Linked DNA regions of Homo sapiens: region 1 is linked to region 2. Evidence: fine-mapped expression QTL. Tissue or cell type: uterus. Region 2 holds a variant in brackets; the other region holds the start of a gene. All regions are shown on one strand. Distances are between the middles of the regions.

Evidence for each region. PIP is the estimated chance that this variant, and not a neighbour inherited with it, causes the effect.
Region 1: ZGRF1 starts here. The variant in region 2 is fine-mapped to the expression of ZGRF1 in uterus (GTEx, PIP 0.96).

The regions. Positions count from the first base shown.
Region 1 is chr4:112,632,454-112,642,891 of GRCh38, reverse strand. It overlaps ZGRF1 (zinc finger GRF-type containing 1), which reads left to right and starts at 5,983. Exons shown (of 28, transcript NM_018392.5): 1 at 5,983-6,041; 2 at 9,650-9,736. The coding sequence starts at 9,716. LARP7 (La ribonucleoprotein 7, transcriptional regulator) reads right to left here and starts at 5,749. Exons shown (of 13, transcript NM_016648.4): 1 at 5,653-5,749. RefSeq lists enhancers at 5,197-5,306, 5,347-5,396, 5,967-6,186.
Region 2 is chr4:112,693,475-112,703,912 of GRCh38, reverse strand. It overlaps the pseudogene GET1P1. Among named protein-coding and RNA genes, the nearest start is that of MIR302CHG, 49 kb to the right of the region's middle. The variant C/G (reference allele first, on the strand shown) is at 6,081.

The DNA.
Region 1 (10,438 bases), 61 kb after region 2:
TGTTGCACCTGGTTTGGAGCAGCTATTAGATGGCATGGAGGCCTTATGCCTACGTGACCAGAACAACAGATTGATAGGCAAAAGAGGTTAAAGCTTTCACGTGTCAAAGTGTCCTAAATACACCATGGTCCTTATCTAGGGAAGGCATACATGCCTGTTGTGGGTAAATGGGAGAAAAAAGTAGTGAATTTGGGTAATTGCTAGATATGGGTAAATGGCTTGGTGGCCTCTGGTGGGATGAAGAAGCTGCATCTACCCTATCTTTTGCCTTGACTCTTCTTTGGTAAGCAGTATTTGCATCTCTTGAGTCTGACTGCTGGTTAGAATCTCTAACTGCTACAGTGATGCTGCTGATAGTAACAGAAATAGATAATGTGTTTCAAAGTGATATCCAGTAAGAGGGTACAAAGCCCTTAATGCATTTCACCTCAAATCTCCAACTAAACATGCATTCTCATCAAACTCAACAGAAGTACATTTTGGCATTTTAGGTTTCAGTAGATCAATCAAGTACCAATTTTGAAATTTTACAAGTAATGATATATTTAGGTGATGCTAGCTTAAGACATAAAACACAACTATAGGTCAGAATTAATAATAGAAAAACAATGAGGTGTCATTGAGTACCACACAACCATGTTCTTCACCTCATGCTCTTACTTCAACCCATCCTGTCAGGTTTTCCTCATCACCATTCTAGAGAAACTGCAAACAAGCTCCTCAATGTGCTCCACTGTCTACTTGACCTCTCAGCAGCAAATGCAGTTGGTAACTCCCTCCTTGAAAATATTTTCTTCATATAGCTTCCAAACGAGTCTTCTTCCTTTTCAATTCCCTTTTGCAATCTCAGTTTCTCAATTTCCTTTCACCCTACCTCTCCCACTGTGCCCTACACCTTTACATGATGCCTAAATTGGACTCAGTCCTGGGCTTCCTTCTCATTTACACACTCATTCTTTCTGAGGATCCTGGCTTTAAGCTCATTGGCTTTATGCTGATGCTTTACAAATCTATCTTCTCCCATTAGCTCCCCATTCCAATATTCAACTGTCCACCTGACACCTCCACTAGTTTATCTAAAGGATATCTCAAAATTAACATGGTGAAAATAGGACTCTCTAGTGCTAACAATCCCCTCCCACCAATTTTCCCTATCTCAGAAACACCAATTACAAAATTGCTGAAAAGGCAAAAGCCTTAAAATCATTCTTAATTTCCCTTTTCCTTACACCTCATGGTCAACTCATCAGTATTTCTGTTAGCTCTAACTTTAAAATATATCCCAAATATGAATAATTCTCATTTCCTCCATCATAAGCACCTGGTCCAAGCTACTACTGCGTTGTCTGAACAACTACAAGAACTTTATTACTAGTCTGCCTGCTTCTAATCTTCTTCCCTTATAATCGATTCTCCAGATAGAATTACCATTTAAATATGTAAATCAGATCATGCCAATTCCTTACACAAACTCCTCCAAAGGTTTCTTTTTTTTTTTTTCCCTGAGACGGAGTCTCACTCTGTCACCCAGGCTGGAGTGCAGTGGCGCGATCTCGGCTCACTGCAACCTCCCCCTCTGGGTTCAAGAGATTCTCCTGCCTTAACTCCCAAGTAGCTGGGACTATAGGCATGTGCCACCACGCCTGGCTAATTTTTTTTTGTATTTTTAGTAGAGACGGGGTTTCATCATGTTGGCCACCTGACCTCAGGTGATCTGCCTGCCTTGGCCTCCCGAAGTGCTAGGATTACAGGTGTGAGCCACCGCGCCCAGCTCAGAGGTTTCTTATCACACTCAAAATAAAGTCCAAAAACCTTACTGTGGTTGACTGGATCTTAAATAATCTGGCCTGGGGATCTCTCTAATTTCATCTATCACAATTCTTGCCAACAGGCTCAGTCCAAACATAACAACCATCTTTTCGTTCTTTAAACATGCTAAAGCCATTCCCACTTCAGGGCCTTTGCCCTTGTTGCTCCCTTTACCTTCCTTACCGTATCTGTATGAATTACTTCCTTGTTCACTTAGGTCTCTGCAAATGTCACTTCTTAGAGAGACTTACCTCTTTCCGCTCAATCTAAAATATTCCCTCCCTGCTGACCTTAACTCCGTCCACTGCCTCAGTCACTATTTTTTATTCTTGTATCTTGTTGTCACTACCTGGAATTATAACTTTATTTTTTATTTTTAATTATTTATTGAGATGGAGTCTGTTGTGCAGCCTGGACTGCAGTGGCACAATCTTGGCTCACTACAACTTCTGCCTCACAGGTTCAAGTGATTCTCCTGCCTCAGCCTCCTAAGTAGCTGGGATTACAGGCAGCTGTCACCACACCCTGCTAATTTTTGTTTTCAGTAGAGATGCGGTTTCATCATTTTGGCCAGGCTGGTCTCAAACTCCTGACCTCAAGTGATCTGCCCATTTGGGCCTCTCAAAGTGCTGAGATTACAGGTGTGAGCTACCATGGCCGGCCTGGAATTTTAATTTTATTGTCTACCTATCCCACCAGAATGTAGACACTATGAAGGCAGGAACTTTAACTTCATCAGTACCTAAGTATCTGTTGAATAAAAAAACAAATTTAAAAGTACCTGTAAAGTGTTAAGCATTTCAAATTCTTTGTAAGGTTGTGGGATGTAAATAAAATACAAATAGGCCAGGTGCAGTGGTTCACGCCTATAATCCCAGCACTTTGGGAGGCCGAGCCAGGTGTATCACTTGAGGTCAGAAGTTCAAGACCAGCCTGGCCAACAAAGTGAAACCCAGTCTCTACTAAAAATAACAAAATTATCTGGGTGTGGTGGCCCATGCCTGTAATGCCAGCTACTCGGGAGGCTGAGGCAGGAGAATCGCTTGAACCCAGGAGGCAGAGGTTGCAGTGATTCGAGATCGTACCACTGCACTCCAGTCTGGGAGACAGATTCAGTCTCCATCTCAAAAACGAACAAACACAAACGTAGGCTATAATTATCAATTATTCTATAATTGATAATTATAATTCTATAATTGATAATCTATAATTATAAATTATTGATAATTATCCAATTATCAATAATTCTATCCAATTATTCTATCCAATCTCTTGTTAAATCCTATCAGTTTGACTTTTGAAATGGCTCTCATCTCCATCCAGTGTTTTCTACAACTACTGCTACAACTGTCACTAGAATATGCCAATAGTTTATAAACTGTTCTGTAAGTCACCCATTCTCAACAGGAGCCTATGTATAACCCATCTAAAACACAGACCTGGTTTTGTGATGCTTCTGTCAAAACTTGCAACATTAGAAATTCCTTAGCACCTTCCCGTAACATAATATGCAGTTTATGAAAACACTGTTTTAAAAAAAAAAAGTAACACTTGGCCAGGCGCGGTGGCTCACGCTTGTAATCCCAGCACTTTGGGAGGCCAAGGCGGGCGGATCACGAGGTCAGGAGATGGAGACCATCCTGGCTAACAAGGTGAGACCACGTCTCTACTAAAAATACAAAAAAAGAAAAAAGAAAAGAAAAAAATTAGCCGGGCATGGTGGCAGGCGCCTGTAGTCTCAGCTACTTGGGAGGCTGAGGCAGGAGAAAGGTGTGAATCCGGGAGGCGGAGCTTGCAGCGAGCCGAGATCGTGCCACTGCACTCCAACCTGGGCGGCAGGGCAAGACTCCGTCTCAAAAAAAAAAAAAAAAAAAGTAACATTTAACTGGCTTTAAATGAAGAATAAAAGTTATTGGGTAACAATACCAGTAACTTTATATACACTTTTGTAAATCCTCACAATCCCACTAGGTAGCAGTTTCTTCCATCTTAACACAAAAACTCAAAAAGGTTTAAGTGACTTGGCCAAAGCTAGCTAAGTAAGTTGTCCCAGGTATGTTTGATCCCACATTGTCTACCTTTTGGTAGAATTTCCCGCAATTTATCACCACGGACTCTATGTTCTGACTCAGGAATTCTTAATCTGAAGTCCATGCAACTTTGGCTGGACAAGAATTCTAGTGGGCTCCATTAAATTGTAAATGATACATTTTAAAGATAAGGTAAAATCAAGACTCTTGTACAAATATAAAATGAATACACGGTAAAGATTTAAGCACAGTCATGGGTTGCTTAACGACAAGGACACATTCTGAGAAATGCACAGTCAGGTGAGTAAGTACATCATTGAGTATGTAGTTATTCTATGATGTATTCACACAAACCTAGGTACTATTGCCTATTACTCACCTATAATCTTATGGGACCACTGTCATACATGCGGTCTGTCGGTATGTGGTGCTTGACTGTAAATAAGGGAACCAGTTAAGTGCTAAAAACCAGTTCAAAGGAGAATTTAAAAAGCAGGTACACAGGCAATCAGGAACGTTGAAATGAATATTAATAAATACTGCTCAGGACAATAATTAATTGCATCTTTACTGGACAAACCTAATTTCCATGTTGCTGTAGCGAGTTACAGGGTTGAAAAATAGTTCAAAGACCACGAAAGACATAGATAACTTGGAAGAGTGAGTCAGACAAGACACCAAGTCATTTGTGTGTGTTTGCTATTTAAAAGTATTTCGTAATTTCTCCTGAGGAAATTATATGAAAAATGTTTGTTTGGAGACGCAGCCTCTCTCAGTGGCCCAGGCTGCAGTGCAGTGGCGCGATCCCGGCTCACTGTAATCTCTGCTTCCCGAGTTCAAGCGATTCTCCCAACCAAGCCTCTTGAGTAGCTGGGACTACAGGTGTGCACCACCACTCCCCGCTAATTTTTGTGTTTTTAGTAGAGACGAGATTTTGCCATATTGGCCAGGCTGGTCTCGAACTCCTGACCTCAAGTGATCCTCCCGCGTCGGCCTCCCAAAGTGCTGGGATTACAGGCGTGAGCCACCGTGCCCAGCCTCGCAAAATGTTTTAATAGGTACATGCACGTTTTCCTGAGAAGCTAATCCATATAATTAAGTTTTCAAAAGAAGTGTGCCACAACAGGTTAAGAATCATTGTTCTGGTCACTGCTTACAACTCAAGTCCCTCAACACGTAGTGGCCTGTGTGTTCTGCTTTGTCTGAATCTTCTCGTCTAAATTTCCTTATTAAATTTTCAAGGCCCAGGTTAAATGGCATCTTACTCTTTGAGATCTTCCACCACCCTGTGTCCTATCATTTGTTTTCTCTTAAGTTTCTTTGCAAACGCACTCTGCACACCATATCTAGCAAGTGTTAGTTCCCTTCCGTAACTGGATTTTTTACTCTTTGAGGACGATGGCAGAGTCCTGCAAAAGAAGATGATAATTTTAGAATATAAATCCTCACGTTCGCTATCTTCTGGCAGCCACAGCTCAGCTCCAATCTGCGAAATACGGCACTCTCTTTATTGACTACTGCTTCTCTCGGCACCCGTACTTCCGCAAGGACGCCGTCATAGGCCGGGCGCGCCCCAAACCTCCCCACGCCGGGCCCCTATGCGCCCTTACTGTCTGAAAACGGGAACTACAAGTGCTGCCGAAGACTTTTGCGCGTGCGCATAGATAACTAGGCCAAGGAACTGATGGGTGTGCAGGACGGGGGGGCGGGGTAAGAAGGACGATAGATGATAGAGTGGACCGCAAGAAAAAGGACGGAGAGTTAATTAGACTTCGCCCAAGCTGTGCGACCCTATAGGCCGCTTGTAACTTACTCCGTTCGACTCCCAAAATACAGGGTCAAGTACTGCGGCCTTCGGACATTTCCGTCTCCGGATCCTGATAGTCTCGGTTACTTTCGCGTCATAGGATGAGCGACAACGTTTTCCGGTCCCAATTGAGAAAGACGGGCCCGGAGGCAGTGCGCGCTCCACCTACGTCACAGGCGAGGTGGTTCCAGGAGGGCTGGGCATCGGAGAGCGCGGCCGGCTGAGAGACTCGAAGCCAAGGAAGAATTTGATTGGCGATTTGAAAGCGGCGGTTTTTGGCTTAGGCGGAGGTGGGCGGGCCAAGTTTTGGGTCCTCATCTGGTGAGGTCCCGCGTTAATGACGTCACGTTGTTTCGCGGGAGAAATTCGAAAGTGGATTTTGTGCAATTTGACAGGTGAGGTGAAGTGTTTCTCGGGATTTCCTAGGAATGACTTGAGCGATTTGGGGCGAAGGGACGAAAGACTCTGCTCCTTAAGAAGAGAACCGGGAAGGATGCTGTTTGGAACCAGGATTGGGGTGGTCGCAGTCACAGCTACTCGGACTGCTTGTAGTAAGTGGTGCCTCTTCACCGTTTTTCCCAGGCCTTGCTTTGCAATTTCGAGTAGGTATGAGGACCAAAGAGGGCTTTGCTGTTTGTATTTAGGACTGAGAAAGGATCAAGTCTCCATTGTCATTTGGTGACAGGATTATGGTTCTTAGAATCTTGGCAAATGAGATGTGGGTTTCCTTTGTTTATTTGGACTGGATGGTTTGTTAACAATGTTGAGTTCATGATTCCAAAACTTTGTTATCCGAACTATTTAGAGGTTCAGGTTTAGGTTCAAAAAATACTCCTTGTTTAAAAAAAAAGGAAAAATATCTAGTATTTAAATGAATAATGGCTCATACTTTACTGAGAACACCGAGTTTTATGTATATATATTGCGTCCGTACATATAGTAGCACAATGTATATGTATGTATATGTGTGTATGTACGTATATCTGTGTGTATGTATGTATGTATATAATTATCACAGAGCATCTGGGGTCTTTAAAAACTTATTTGGAGATTAATCTTTCACCTATTAGAAGTCGGTCAACAGGTGAATTGTCTGGTAGACGTGGACAGATGAACACTTGGAAAAAACTCTTTGCATCTCACTTAAATATATATGATGCTGTTGTCTAAAATAATTTTTTCTGATTAATACTAAGATAAGAAAGGGTGTTGACTTTCAATGAATAAGTATTAGAGCTCTTCTAAATTTTAAAAGATCCAGTTAGCTTTTTTTTTTTAGGTTTTCTCCTATAATCGAATTTAACCATCCTTTAAGAGTTTCAGTCTTCTTAGTTCTTTTTAAACTGTACATTCCAGAAGTAATATCTCAATTTAGGAAAATAATGGAGAATTTATCTTGCAATTGTGAAATAGCATATAAGTTATCCTAAACTAGTAAATACTGGGTTCCTAATCTGTAAATTGTAATAATGCTTATTCTTCAGGATTATGAGACTGATAAATACTGTATGTAAAGTATCTCGTCCAATTCCTGCCTGATACATAGTATGTAATCAATAAATATATATAATTACACACGATAATCATATAATTGTATATTACATAATACAGTAATATAGTTATATATTATATAATTACATAATAATTATAATGTATATAATTAACAATATAATGTATATAATGTTTATAATATAGCACTTTGGGAGGCTGGAAGGATTGCTTGAGCCCAGGAGTTTGAGGCCACAGCGAGCTATGATTGCAACACTGCACTCCAGCCTAGGTGACAGAGTGAGACCCTGTCTCTGTAAAAGAAAAAGAAAAGTTAAAAAGCCAACAGAAACAAAACCTCCAAATAAAGCATTTAACAGTTTCTAGCATATGGTAGCACTGAATAAATGGTAGCTATTAAACAGATCTGATATTAATAATTGCCACATGCCCAGCACTGTGTCTGTACCATGTATTCTCATCTATGTATACAGCATATCTAGCCCAGGAGTGTTTTTCTCGATCTCTCTTTTATCTTCTTGGCATTCTTAGGCATCAGCAATTTATGTACGCCGGAGGGGAGGGAGATAGGATGTGGAAGTTGTATTTCTTTTTTTTTTTTTTTTTTGAGATGGAGTCTCGCTCTGTCGCCCAGGCTGGAGTGCAGTGGCGTGATCTCTGCTCACTGCAACCTCCGCCTCCCGGGTTCAAGCAATTCTCCTGCCTCAGCCTCCTGAGTAGCTGGGACTACAGGCCTGTGCCACCATGCCCAGCTAATTTTTGTATTTTTAGTAGAGACGGGGTTTCACCATGTTGGTCAGGCTGGTCTCGAGCGCCTGACCTCATGATCCACCCGCCATGGCCTCCCAGAGTGCTGGGATTACAGGCGTGAGTCACCACACCCGGCCAGGAGTTATATTTCTGAAAGGCAGTCCTTCTGTAGGTTTGGTTTCTGTCCTGTGACCTGTGTCACGAAGCAAGTATGCATATCTCATTTGCATACCCCTTACCTATTCTTTCTCCAGATCACCTTGATTAGTCAAGGGAAGATGCCAGTCACTTTCTTGCACTTCACCGCCCCCGCCTCGCCCTTTTATTTTTTTTTTTTGAGACAGTTTTGCTCTTGTCGCCCAGGCTGGAGTGCAGTGGCGTGATCTCGGCTCACTGCAGCCTCTGCCTCCTGGGTTCAAGTGATTCTCCTGCCTCAGCCTCCCAAGTAGCTGGGATTATAGGCACGCACCACCACACCTGGCTAATTTTTGTATTTTTAGTAGAGACAGGGGTTTCACCATGTTGGCCAGGCTGGTCTCGAACTCCTGACCTCAGGTGATCCACCTGTCTCGGCCTCCCAAAGTGCTGGGATCACAGGCCTGCAATTCTTGTTTGGGAAGACCTTCACTGGCCTTCCCTTGACTAAGGGTTATTTCAGCTTACAGCTTAGACTTTACTTCCTTGAAGAAGCCTTGTTTGATGATCCACACCAAGCTGGGTGCCCCTGCTGTGCTTATTCCTGCCTTATTTTATTAAAATTACTGTTTATCACCCCGCCATACTGAAATTCCTTCAGATGGAGGATAGAGTTTCCATTTAAATACTTTAGCATAATATCTGGCACAATAGTAAGTACTGAATAAATATATGTAACTTATAAATAATATGTAAGTGGCATATTTTATATGTCTAAAAGAGGAACTGAAATCACAATTACAGCTTTATTGAATCCTTCTAGGTCTTTTAGATCTGTATTCTCAAACTTGAGTGTCCATCAGCATCACTTGGAGGGCTTCTTAAAACACAGACTGCTGGGCCCCCAACCCCAGACTTTCTGACTTAATAGGTCATTTCTTACTAGTTCCCAGATGATACTGTTGGTCCAGGGGTCACATCTTGAGAACCACCTTAGGGGAAAAAAAAGAAAGTATGTTTCTTTGGCATTTCTGTTTACTTCTTCAGGGATCACCATCAGTGATTTTAGATTTCCAAATTTGCCCACAAAAACAGTTTTATCCAATAGCATAACAACTACAGTAACTGTTGCAACAGTGTTGGAAAGATTTTTCCTTGTAGAGGTACTATGTAATTGGTCCTAGATACTGTGGTATATTGATGCTAAGAAGTGAAAGGAAAAATTTAAAACACAAGGGGGCCATCTTGTGGTAACCGTAGCAATTCAGAAAACTTTAAAAATTGAATTTGCGCTATAGGGAACCAAACATGTGGAGGACAAATTCGTGTTTTCTGATACATATTATGCATCTGGAAAAATGCAGACTACAAGTTAATTTATGTATTTTACTTAGTTTTTTCTTTACTTATGAAAAAATGCTTGTTTCACAGCATGGTATCACTTTTACTGTGTCCTCAGTGATAGATAATTACACCTCTGTTTCCCTTGGTAGTTAGGTAATCTTGGAACTCCTTGATTCATGTCTGTGGTTGGGAGTTTATTGAGAAAAATTATATTTGATATTTTTTAAAAATCAGGGTTGAAATTTTATGTCATTTTTAATTTTAGGTGGTATAAATAGTTGAATATTTCCTATTTTCTGGACCCAGCTGGTTTATAACTTCAGAAGAAATAATGGAAAGCCAAGAATTTATTGTAAGTTTTACCATTTTTCACAGTTTGGTGAAATTCCCTTCCTCTGTCTCTTTCTTTTAAAGGCGTTTCACAAACATCTTGCTGTGTTGCCAGATTTAGCAAAAACAAAACAAAAAACAGGCTACTCAGTTAAATTTGAATTTCAAATAAACAATGCATACCTTTTTTAGCATTAGGATCCCAAATATTGCACAGTATTTTATCTGGTAACCCTATCTGTTACCTACTATTCATATTTGTTACACAAAATCATCACTTTTCAGCCTTTTGGCTAAGATCAAGTATTAGACAAAGTCCTTTGTAACATAATCTTTGAAAGTGTGAGACCGGGAAACAATTTCTTTCTCTTGAAGAACTGGCATCCGTCTTCTGTATAGATCAGCAGTTCTCACACTATTTGGTCTCGGGACTCTTTAACACTTAGAAAATTATTGACCCCAAATAACTTGTGTATATAGGGTCTTACGTCTATTGATGTTTTTCATATTAGAAGTTAAAGCAGAAATGTAAAAAGTATTTATGATTTGGCTTAATGGAAGACAACTGGATTCTCATATTTGTTTCTTCTACATTCAGATTGCAATTGAATCTTACAATATTGCATATACATAATCCTGGGAAACTTCATTCTGCACCCCTGAAGGAGTGAGGATGAAAAGACAGCATCATGAAAATAGTTTTGACCTCACAGATACCTGTAAA
Region 2 (10,438 bases):
GGAGACTGAAGATAAAGATGGTTAAAAAAGAAAACCTTTATGTCATATCAGAAAATCAAGAAAAACTTAGTGAGCCAAGTAAGTACTGATAATACTGCTATGGCTCCTGAGTGCTCTGTATCATAAGTGGGCACACAGAAATCTAAATTTATGGTCTTCAATCTCTCCTGTCCTGGGGTACATAATCCAAATTAATGAAAAAATGAACATAACAATAAAAGAATAACATTTTAAATAGATAGATAATAGGTTGATATACAGATGTTGAGATTGATAGATATGGGCAGAGATACAATGCAATATTATAAGTAGGAAAGTATTTTCTTTTTTCTGTCTTTCTTTTCTTTTTTTTTTTCTTTTTTTTTTTTTAAGTAAGTGTCTCACTGCGTCACCCAGGCTGGAGTGCAGTGGCAAGATCTAGGCTCACTGCAGCCTCGACCTGCTGAACTCAAGCGATGCTCTTGTCTCAGTCCCCCAAGAAGCTGGGACCACAAGCACACACCACCATGCCCAGCTAATTTTTGTATTTTTTGTGAAAATCGGGTTTCGCCATGTTGCCCAGGCTGATCTCAAACTCTTGGGCTCAAGCCATCTGCCCACCTTGGCCTCCCAAAGTGCTAGGATTACAGGCATGAGCCACTGTGCCTGGCCAGTATTTCAATTTTTACTTTTACAGTTCTGGAGGCCAGAAGTCCAAGATCAAGGTAACAATAGGGTTGGTTCCTTCTGAGGACTTTGAGGGAGAATCTGTTCTATGCTTTTTCCTTAGCTTCTGGTGGTTTGCTGGAGAACTTTGGCATTCCTTGGCTTGTTGAGGTATGACTCAAGTCTCAGTCTCACTTGTCGCTTGCCACAACAGTGAAGAGTGCTCCAGGAAAGGCATCATTTGGGTTTACCAGGAAACTATGCAAAATGGAGACTACTGTAGTGGTCTCTGAAGCCCTCTTGGGTGGTGGCTGTTTATCTTCCAATAGCCCTCCTTCTCTCTCAGACCCTGGGATGAGCTTCATCTTTGCTTATAACTGCTACGTCTAGACTCTTGTCCCTACCTCTTCCCCTAAAAAATCCAACTGCTTTGAAAATCATGATAGACCACCGCAACTTCTCTTTGTTACAGACATTTACATTTCCTGAAGGCCTTAAAAACCTTACTTTCTTCTTCTTCAGCAATATCCTTGTCATAATTCTTGTTAATTTTTTAAAAATCGACATAGGTCGGGTGCAATGGCTCACACCTGCAATCTCAGCACTTTGGGAGGCCAAGGCAGGTGAATGATTTGATGTCAGGAGTTCGAGACCAGCCCAACCAACATGGTAAAACCCTGTCTCAACTAAAAATAAAAAAATTAGCCTGGCATGGTGATGCATGCCTGTAATCTTAGCTACTCGAGAGGCTGAGGCTGGAGAATGGCTTGGGCCTGGGAGGTGGAGGTTGCAGTGAGCCAAGATTATGCTGCTGCACTCCAGCCTGGGTGAGAGCATGAGACTCCATCTTAAAAATAAAATAAAATAAAATAAATCCACATAGACAATTAGACAATGCCCCTGTTAACCTGCAATGACTTGACCTCCACCCCACCCCAGATATACACTGTCTACTCCCATGTTCATACCCTAGGGTTTTTTATTATTGATATTTGTCCCCTCTCTATGACCACACTATCAAGCATTCCATTCTCCGGTCATCACTTACTTTCTTTCCAACTGACTTCCTATACTACCCTATCTCCAATAATTCTGTAATCCCACTAAAACCTCCAACTCTGCAGCCCTACTATCTTCACACTATCCCTACTCCATTGCACGTCCCCATCCTCCTCCTAACTCAATTTGGATTCCATGAACCACTATTATATTATTACAACCACTGCCTTGTATGTACTTCAACTTGCCTCTTTCTCCCTCTGCCATACTCACCTGGCAAAATGAAATCTCAATTATATCCATTTTTCCATCTACTCTAAGCCTGCACCCATGCAATATACACCTGGAGAAAAATGCTGAGAGGTCTCAGTGTTGCTGGACACTAATTTCAAGTGGGCCCTTGTTGGCGTGTGGTAATCCTTCATATTTCCTTAATAAATTGATTCTCCCACTTTTCAAGACAATCATTAACACATTAACAACTCTCTCCTCAAACTTCCAGTGCTGCCCCTGAATTTTTTTTTTTTTTTTTTTTTTGAGACAGGGTCTCACTCTTGCCCAGACTGAAGTGCAGTGGAGCAATCTAGACTCACTGCAGCCTCCACCTCCTGGGTTCAAGTAATTCTCATGCCTCAGCCTCTGGAGTAGCTGAGATCCCAGGTGCACGTGACCATGGCTGGCTAATTTTTGTATTTTTAGTAGAGACGGGGTTTCACCATGTTGGCCAGGCTGGTCTTGAACTCCTGACCTCAAGCAGTCAACCTGCCTCAGCCTCCCAAAGTGCTAGGATTATAGGTGTGAGCCACCACTCCTGGCCTGGATTCTTCATTCTCAACTGATGACCTTGTTATTTCACCAAGAAAACAGAGGAAGTGAAAAGAGAGCTTCCACATAGTTTCTTCACCATTATTATATTCATCTGCCCATATGCCGAATGATGCCTTTTATCTTCTTACCATGAATGAATTGTGCATGCTCTTATGAGAGGCCAAGCCCTCCACTTGGGCACTTGATCAGATCTCCTCAAATTTACTTGTGAACATCATTCTTATAAGTACTCTCCCTCCTCTCTCTCCCTCTGGCTCCCACTTTCCCCTGTATCATCTATTTTCCCTCTCTACTGGCTCGTTCCCATAAGCATACATCCCTGTCCCTCTGTAATTCCATGCTTCTGCTCCACGTATAGAAAACTTTTTCTGAAATGTAGTCTGTACTTGCTATTTCTGCCTTAAATCCACTACCTTCAGGTTCCCTCCTTACCATTTCACCAAAACTATTCTTGTCAGTGTTGCCACTCACATCCATGTTGTCATATACTTTGGTCTATTTTGTTTTGGATTTTTTTTTTATTTGGATAAATGTATGAGGGTACACATGCAATTTTGTTACATGCAAACATTGCGTAATGGTCAATTCAGGACTGTTAGGGTATCCATCACCCGAATAACGTACATTGTACCCATTAAATAACTTCTCATCCTCCAGCCCCCTCCCACCCCCTCACCCTTCAAAATCTCCATTGTCTACCATTCTACTCTCTACATTTATGTATACACATTTTTAAGCACCCACTTATGGGTGGGAACATGCAATACTTGTCTTTCTGTGTCTGGCTTGTTTCACTTAACATAATGACCTCCAGTTCCATCTTTGTTGCTTTGGTCAATTTTGGTCAGTTCTTGTCTGACTTATCTTCAAAACATATTTATTTGACATAAATTTCTTCACTTGACTTCCAGGAGTCCACACACTGTCTTGGTTTTCCTTCTGCCTAATGGGCTGCTTTTTTAAAATCCATAATCCCAGCCCTTGGACCCCTTTTCTCTGTCTATGCTCACTCCACAGCTAATCCCACATATTCCCATGATTTTTTTGTTTGTTTGTTTGTCTGTTTTGTTTTGTTTTTTGAGACGGAGTTTGTTTTTATTGCCCAGGCTGGAGTGCAATGGCGCGATCTCAGCTCACCGCAACCTCCGCCTCCCAGGTTCAAGCTATTCTCCTGCCTCAGCCTCCCTAGTAGCTGGGATTGCAGGCATGTGCCACCATGCTTGGCTAATTTTGTATTTTTAGTAGAGACAGGGTTTCTCCATGTTGGTCAGGCTGGTCTCGAACTCCCAACCTCAGGTGATCCGCCCACCTCGGCCTCCCAAAGTGCTCGGATTACAGGCGTGAGCCACCGCGCCCAGCCATTCCCATGATTTTAAATAGCATCTATAGCTGACAACTCCCAAATCAGATGTCTGGCCCTGCAGCTTCCCCTTTTGCCAACTGACTGCTCTCCATCTCCACCTAGATATCTGGGAATCTGGGAAGCATCTCAGACTAAGCATGCATAAAGCTATGTACTACTCCTCTAGCAGCCTTCTCCATCCCAGTAAATAGCAACTGTATCCTTCCAGGTGCTCACCTCAAAACTTTGGAGTCATCCTTGACTACTCTCTCTCATACACACATCCAGTCCATTAGAAAATTCTGTTGACCAAGTCTTCAAAGTATGCCCAGAACCTATTTCCCAGTCATACACCGCTGCTTAGAAAAGTCCAAGCCACCAGTCCCCTCTTTCTTGGATTATTGTAATAGTTACCTATAACTCTAACACCTATTCTTAGCAAGTCATTCAAAATTATCTCTAAATATAAACCCAATCATTTCATATCTCTCCCTAAAATCCTCTAATGGGACGGACACAGTGGCTTACATCTGTAATCCCAGTACTTTGGAGGCTGAGGCAGGTGAATTGCTTGAGGCCAGGAGTTCAAGACTAGCCTGGGCAACACGATAAAACCTCATCTCTCCAAAAAATACAAAAATTGACTGGGCACAGTGGCTCGCACCTGTAATCTCAGCACTTTGGGAGGCCAAGGCGCACAGATCACAAGGTCAGGAGTTCGAGATCAGCCTGGCCAATATGGTGAAACCCCGTCTACTAAAAATACAAAAATTGGGCCAGGCACAATGGCTCACTCCTGTAATCTCAGCACTTCGGGAGGCCGAGGCAGACAGATCACAAGGTCTCTACTAAAAATACAAAAAGTTAGCTGGGCGTGGTGGCAGGAGCCTGTAATCTCAGCTACTCAGGAGGCTGAGGCGGGAGAATAACTTGAACCTGGGAGGTGGAGGTTGCAGTGAGCCGAGATCTCGCCATTGCACTCCAGCCCAGGCGACAGTGCAAGACTTTGTCTCAAACAAACAAACAAACAAACAAACAGCCAACAACAGCAACAAAAATTAGCCGGGCATAGTGGCAAGCACCTGTAATCCCAGCTACTCAGGAGGCTGAGGCAGGAAAATCGCTTGAACCCAGGAAGCAGAGGTTGCAGTGAGCCGAGATCGCGCCACTGCACTGCAGCCTGGGTGACAGAGTGAGACTCCGTCTAAAAAAAAAAAAAAAAAAAAAAAATTAGCCAGGCGTGTGGCACACACCTGTCGTCCCAGCTACTTGGGAGGCTGAGGTGGGAGGATCACTTGAACTGGTGAGATCAAGGCTGCAGTGAGCTGAGATCGTGCCCCTGCACTTCACCCTGAGTGACAGTGCCTAAAATATGAGAGATTTAAAATACAATGCAACCCTTCTCTGTCATCTATCCTACCTATGTGTCCATCTACACAAATTCTCTAAACCTGCTCCATTCTCTTCGTTCCTAGCCTAGATGGAGATTTTTACCATCGACCAAATCACTCAAGCTAGAAACTTTAGTGTCATCCTAGACCTCTCTACATCTCTCAGGTTCTATGACTCACCACACCCAGTGAATTCTAATATGGTAGTCTCCTGCTTCTTTTTTTTTCTGTATCCTTGGCTTTAGTCGAGGCTTTCAGCCACTCTTTCAGTGTTTTGTTGTAGTTTCTTAATAATGATCCCAGAGTTCTTCCTATCCTGGAACACCCAGCAAAATTCAGCCAGAGTAACTTTCTTTTCAAAAACTCTCCCGTTTAAACAGCCCTGATGGCTTTCTATTGCTTCAGGATAAAATCTGCATCCCTTTGCTTTGAAATAAAAACCCTTCTAAATATTTATATACTTTTTGCATTAGGGAAGATATTCCTAAGACTGATCGTTATTTAAAAATTTAAAAGGCTGGGTGTGGTGGCTCATGACTGTAATCCCAGCATTTTGGGAGACCAAGGCAGGTGAATCACCTGAGGTCAGGAGTTGGAGACCAGCCTGGCCAACATGGCGAAACCTCGTCTCTACTAAAAATACCAAAATTATCCGGGCTTGGTGGCACCCGACTATAATCCCAGCTACTTGGAAGGCTGAGACAGGAGAATCACGTGAACCCAGGAGATGAAGGCTGCGATGACCTGAGATGCTGCCACTGCACTCCAGCCTCTGCGACAGGATGAGACTCTGTCTCAATAAACAAATAAATTAGAATAAATTTTATGGTTATATGTAAAATAATCTTTCAGCATTTCTTCTTTTTTTTTTGAGA[C/G]AGAGTTTTGCTCTTTTTGCCCAGGCTGGAGTGCAATGGCGCATTCTTGGCTCATTGCAACCTCTACGTCACCATGTTGACCAGGCTGGTCTACATGGTGACCATGGACCCTAGCAAAGATTTTCATTGTAGCACTGGTTATAATAGATAAAACATAAATAAACAATAACAACCTGGAAATCAGCTAAATATTCTAAAAGAGAGGATTGAGTACATACATTATGAAGCTTCCACATATTGGGATGTTTTATAGAATGTTATTCAGCCATTCAAATAATATTTTAAGCAAATATTACTGGCTCCATTGTCTCTATAATAAAATTGTTTCAAGCTATTAGTTGCCCCCACCCAGGCCCCACTTTGATGACATTTCCAATTTTTTCCATAACTGGCCTTTTGAGCTGGTTTCCTTCTGCCGTTCACTCATGTGTGTTCCTGCCGTTCTCCCTCCTCAGAAGACAGTCTTGCCTGTGACTCTGGCTTTATATATCCTGGGTTCCATCTGCGTAGAACGCCTTCACCTCTCTTCTTCACCTGACTAGCATCTGTGCAAAATTGAAAGGGGTAATAAATCTCTTTACAAAACAACAACAACAACAACAACAGCTAATGTTTTTTGTTTGTTTGTTTTGTTTTTTATTTATTTTTGAGATGGAGCCTTGCTCTTGTCACCCAGGCTGGAGTGCAATGGCACAATCTTGGCTCACTGCAACCTCTGCCTCCTGGGATCAAGCAATTCTCCTGCCTCAGCTTCCCGAGTAGCTGGGATTACAGGAGCCCACCACCATGCCCGGCTGATTTTTGTATTTTTAGTAGAGACGGGGTTTCGCCAAGTTGGCCAGGCTGGTCTCAAACTCCTGACCTCGTGATCTGCCTGCCTCGGCCTCCCAAAGTGCTGGGATTACAGGCATGAGCCACCACGCCCAGCTGGGTAATAAATCTCTAAAGAGAATTGGGCCCACTCCCAAATAAACATTTCAAATCAATATAAATAAGGTCCAAAACAATCTTAATACTAATCAACTAAAAGGGTAGGAGTTTCAGCTACACAGAACAAATCAATAGTCTGAAATTTAGATATTCTAGCTTAAATGGATCTTGAACCAAGTTTTATTCATATTAAATATAGACTGATTGTCAGGTGGCTGATGTTCAATGCTTTTCACATTAAGACTCCATCCTTCCTTTCCAACTTTATTTCCTGTCTCTTCTCTACATAAACCTTTCTTCAGCTGAATCAGTCTACTCAATCTTAAATAAAATCCCAAATTTATTCTATCTTCTGCCAAAAGCATGATTGGATTTTCCTGTACTTTTGCTATTACCTCATCCTAGGATAATTTACTGTCTATAGCAACCAAATAATATACATAATACTTGTATATTACTTATATAATATATATGTAGTACTTGTATAATACACATAATACTTATGCTGTATTGTATAGTTATTATTATTATTATTTTTGTTTTATATATATTTTTTGAGACGGAGTCTTGCTCTGTTGCTAGGCTGGAGTGCAGTGACACGATTTTGGCTCACTGCAAACTCCACCTCCTGGATTCAAGTGATTCTCCTGCCCCAGCCTCCCAAGCAGCTGGGACTACAGGCACACACCACCACGCCCAGCTAATTTTGTATTTTTAGTAGAGATGGGGTTTCACCATGTTGGCCAGGATGGTCTCGATCTCTTGAACTTGTGATCCGCCCGCCTCAGCCTCCCAAAGTGCTGGGATTACAGGTGTGAGCCACCACGCCCGACCTATTATTATTATTTTTGAAGACGAAGTTTCGCTCTTGTTACCCAAGCTAGAGTGCAGTGGCACGATCTCAGCTCACTACAACATCCGCCTCCTGGGTTCAAGTGATTCTCCTGCCTCAGCCTCCCTAGTAGTTGGGATTATAGGCACCCACTACCATGCCTGGCTAATTTTTGTATTTTTAGTAGAGACGGGTTTTCTCCATGTTGATCAGGCTGGCCTCAAACTCCTGACCTCAGGTGATCCCCTGCCTCTGCCTCCCAAAGTGCTGGGATTACAGACATGAGCCACCGCTCCTGGCCTATTGTATAGTTATTTATCTTTTATGCATATGTCCTATTTCCCAGTAGCTATGTTATTAACATCTTCATGTCAGGGGGGTATCATATGCTTACTTATAACCTTAGCATATGTTCTATGAATATAGGCATTAAATAAATGATAATTGTTTATGATTTGAGGAAATCACAAATGGAAAGAGCACTAGAACTGGGCATTTTTTTAACATAAGCACTTTAAAAAAGAATTATTTTTCTCCTTTTTCAGTCTTTTTTGGCTTTTTCAAACTAATAGAATTTATAGAGCAGCCAAATTTGGAAGAACACATTGGTCTTTAGGTGACAACATGTTGCTACCTTATTGCCTGAAGTTATTACAGACATTTTCTACCCTCATATTTACAAGTATGTCCCAATGTTTTACAAAATTTTATTAAAATTTTACATTGCTATTAAGCTAGAATTTTTTTTTGTAGAATTTTAATTATAAAGGTAGTACATGCTCATGGTAAATAGCATACAAACATTACAGAATTACATATAAAATGGGCTGTGTGCATGGCTCACACCTGTAATCCCAGTACTTTGGGAGGCTGAGGAAGGCAGGTAGCTTGAGCCCAGGATTTCAAGACCAGTCTGGGCAACATGGCAAAATCCCATCCCTACTAAAAATTAAAAAATTAGCTGGGTGTGGTGCATTCCTGCAGTCCTAGCTATTCGGGAGGCTGAGGCGGGAGGATCATCTGAGCCCAGGGAGATTGAGTCTTCAGTGAGCCCTGATCATGCCCCTGCACTTCAGCCTGGGCAGCAGAGTAAGACCCGTCTCAAAAAGAAAAAAAAAAAAAAGAAAGAATTACACATAAAGTGAAAAATAAGTGTCCTTCACTCCCTATTCCTGTAGTCCCATGCCCCAGAGGTAACTACTGTAAACTGCTTCTTTTTTATCCTTTCAAAACTCTTAGCACATGTATTTGCAAAGACAAGTGTATTTTGGGGATTATATTATACATGCTACTTGACAAGGTCCTTTGTTTTAACTTTACAATATAGCATGTTTCCATATCAGTAAATCGACTTCATTTTTATAATATTTGATACCCTACAAAAACCTTACATAACAAATATATAATAATTAAAATATTATATGAAACATGGTGGCTCACACCTGTAATCTCAGCACTTTGGGAGGCCAAGCCTGGAGGATCACTTCAGCCCAGGAGTTTGAGGTGAGCCTGGGCAACATAGCAAAACCCTGTCTCTACAAAAGTTTTAAAAATTAGCCAGGCATGGTGTCATACCACTGTGGTCCCAGCTATTCAGGAGGCCGAGGTGAAAGAATCGCTTGAGCCCAGGAGATGGAAGCTGCAGTGAGCCATGATTGCACCATTGCACTCCAGCCTGGGCAACAGAAAGAGACCCTGTCTCAAACAAAAACAAAAACAGAAAATAACAACAACAACAAAAATATGATATGATGACACAATATTGATATAAAGAAACTATGGATTCCTGACATTTTTTATTGAGTTGAGGTTTTTATTGAGGTAATTGTAGATTTACATGCAGTAGTAAGAAATAACACAGCAAGATCCCTTACACACTTTGCCTAGTTATCCCCATGTTAACATTTTACAAAGCTATAGTGTAATACCATAACCATGATATTTACGTTATCAATCCACTAGTTTTATTCAGATTTTTCCAGTGTTACTTATACTCATTTGTCCCTGCTTGCAAGTGTGTGTGTACTAAGTTCTATACAATTTTATCACCTTTGTAGATTCGTGTATCCACCTACCACAGGCAAGTTATTAAACAGTTTCAACACCTGGAGGACCTCGTGTTGCCCTTTTATAAACACTTCTTCTTAAACCTTGGCATCCATTTTGTCCATCATTTCTAAAATGTTATCATTTCAGAACTGCAATATAGGTGGATGCCAACATGATCCCCATGGAGCTACCATAGCTAACGGTGCCTACGCCACCAGGAGCGTCTAACATGGGCACGGCTAAGGCTAACCACTGGGCGTGGCTGCTGGTGCTCAGATTCCTGTTTGGGTGCAGTGTCCTTCAGATCCTACTCCCGTCCTTCTCTTTTATGTCCAGGGTGCAGCGCAAGGATGCAGAACAGGAGTCGCAGACCAAAGCAGAGATCCAGGATATGAAGCAAGAGTTATCCGCGGTCAATATGATGGACAAGTTTGCCAGATCTGCCAGGCTGGAAAGAAAGATCAACAAGATGATGAATAAGCTCAAAACTCATGTGAAAGTACAGACAGCTCAATCAGGAATGCTAAAATGGGTTATAAGTGTTGCT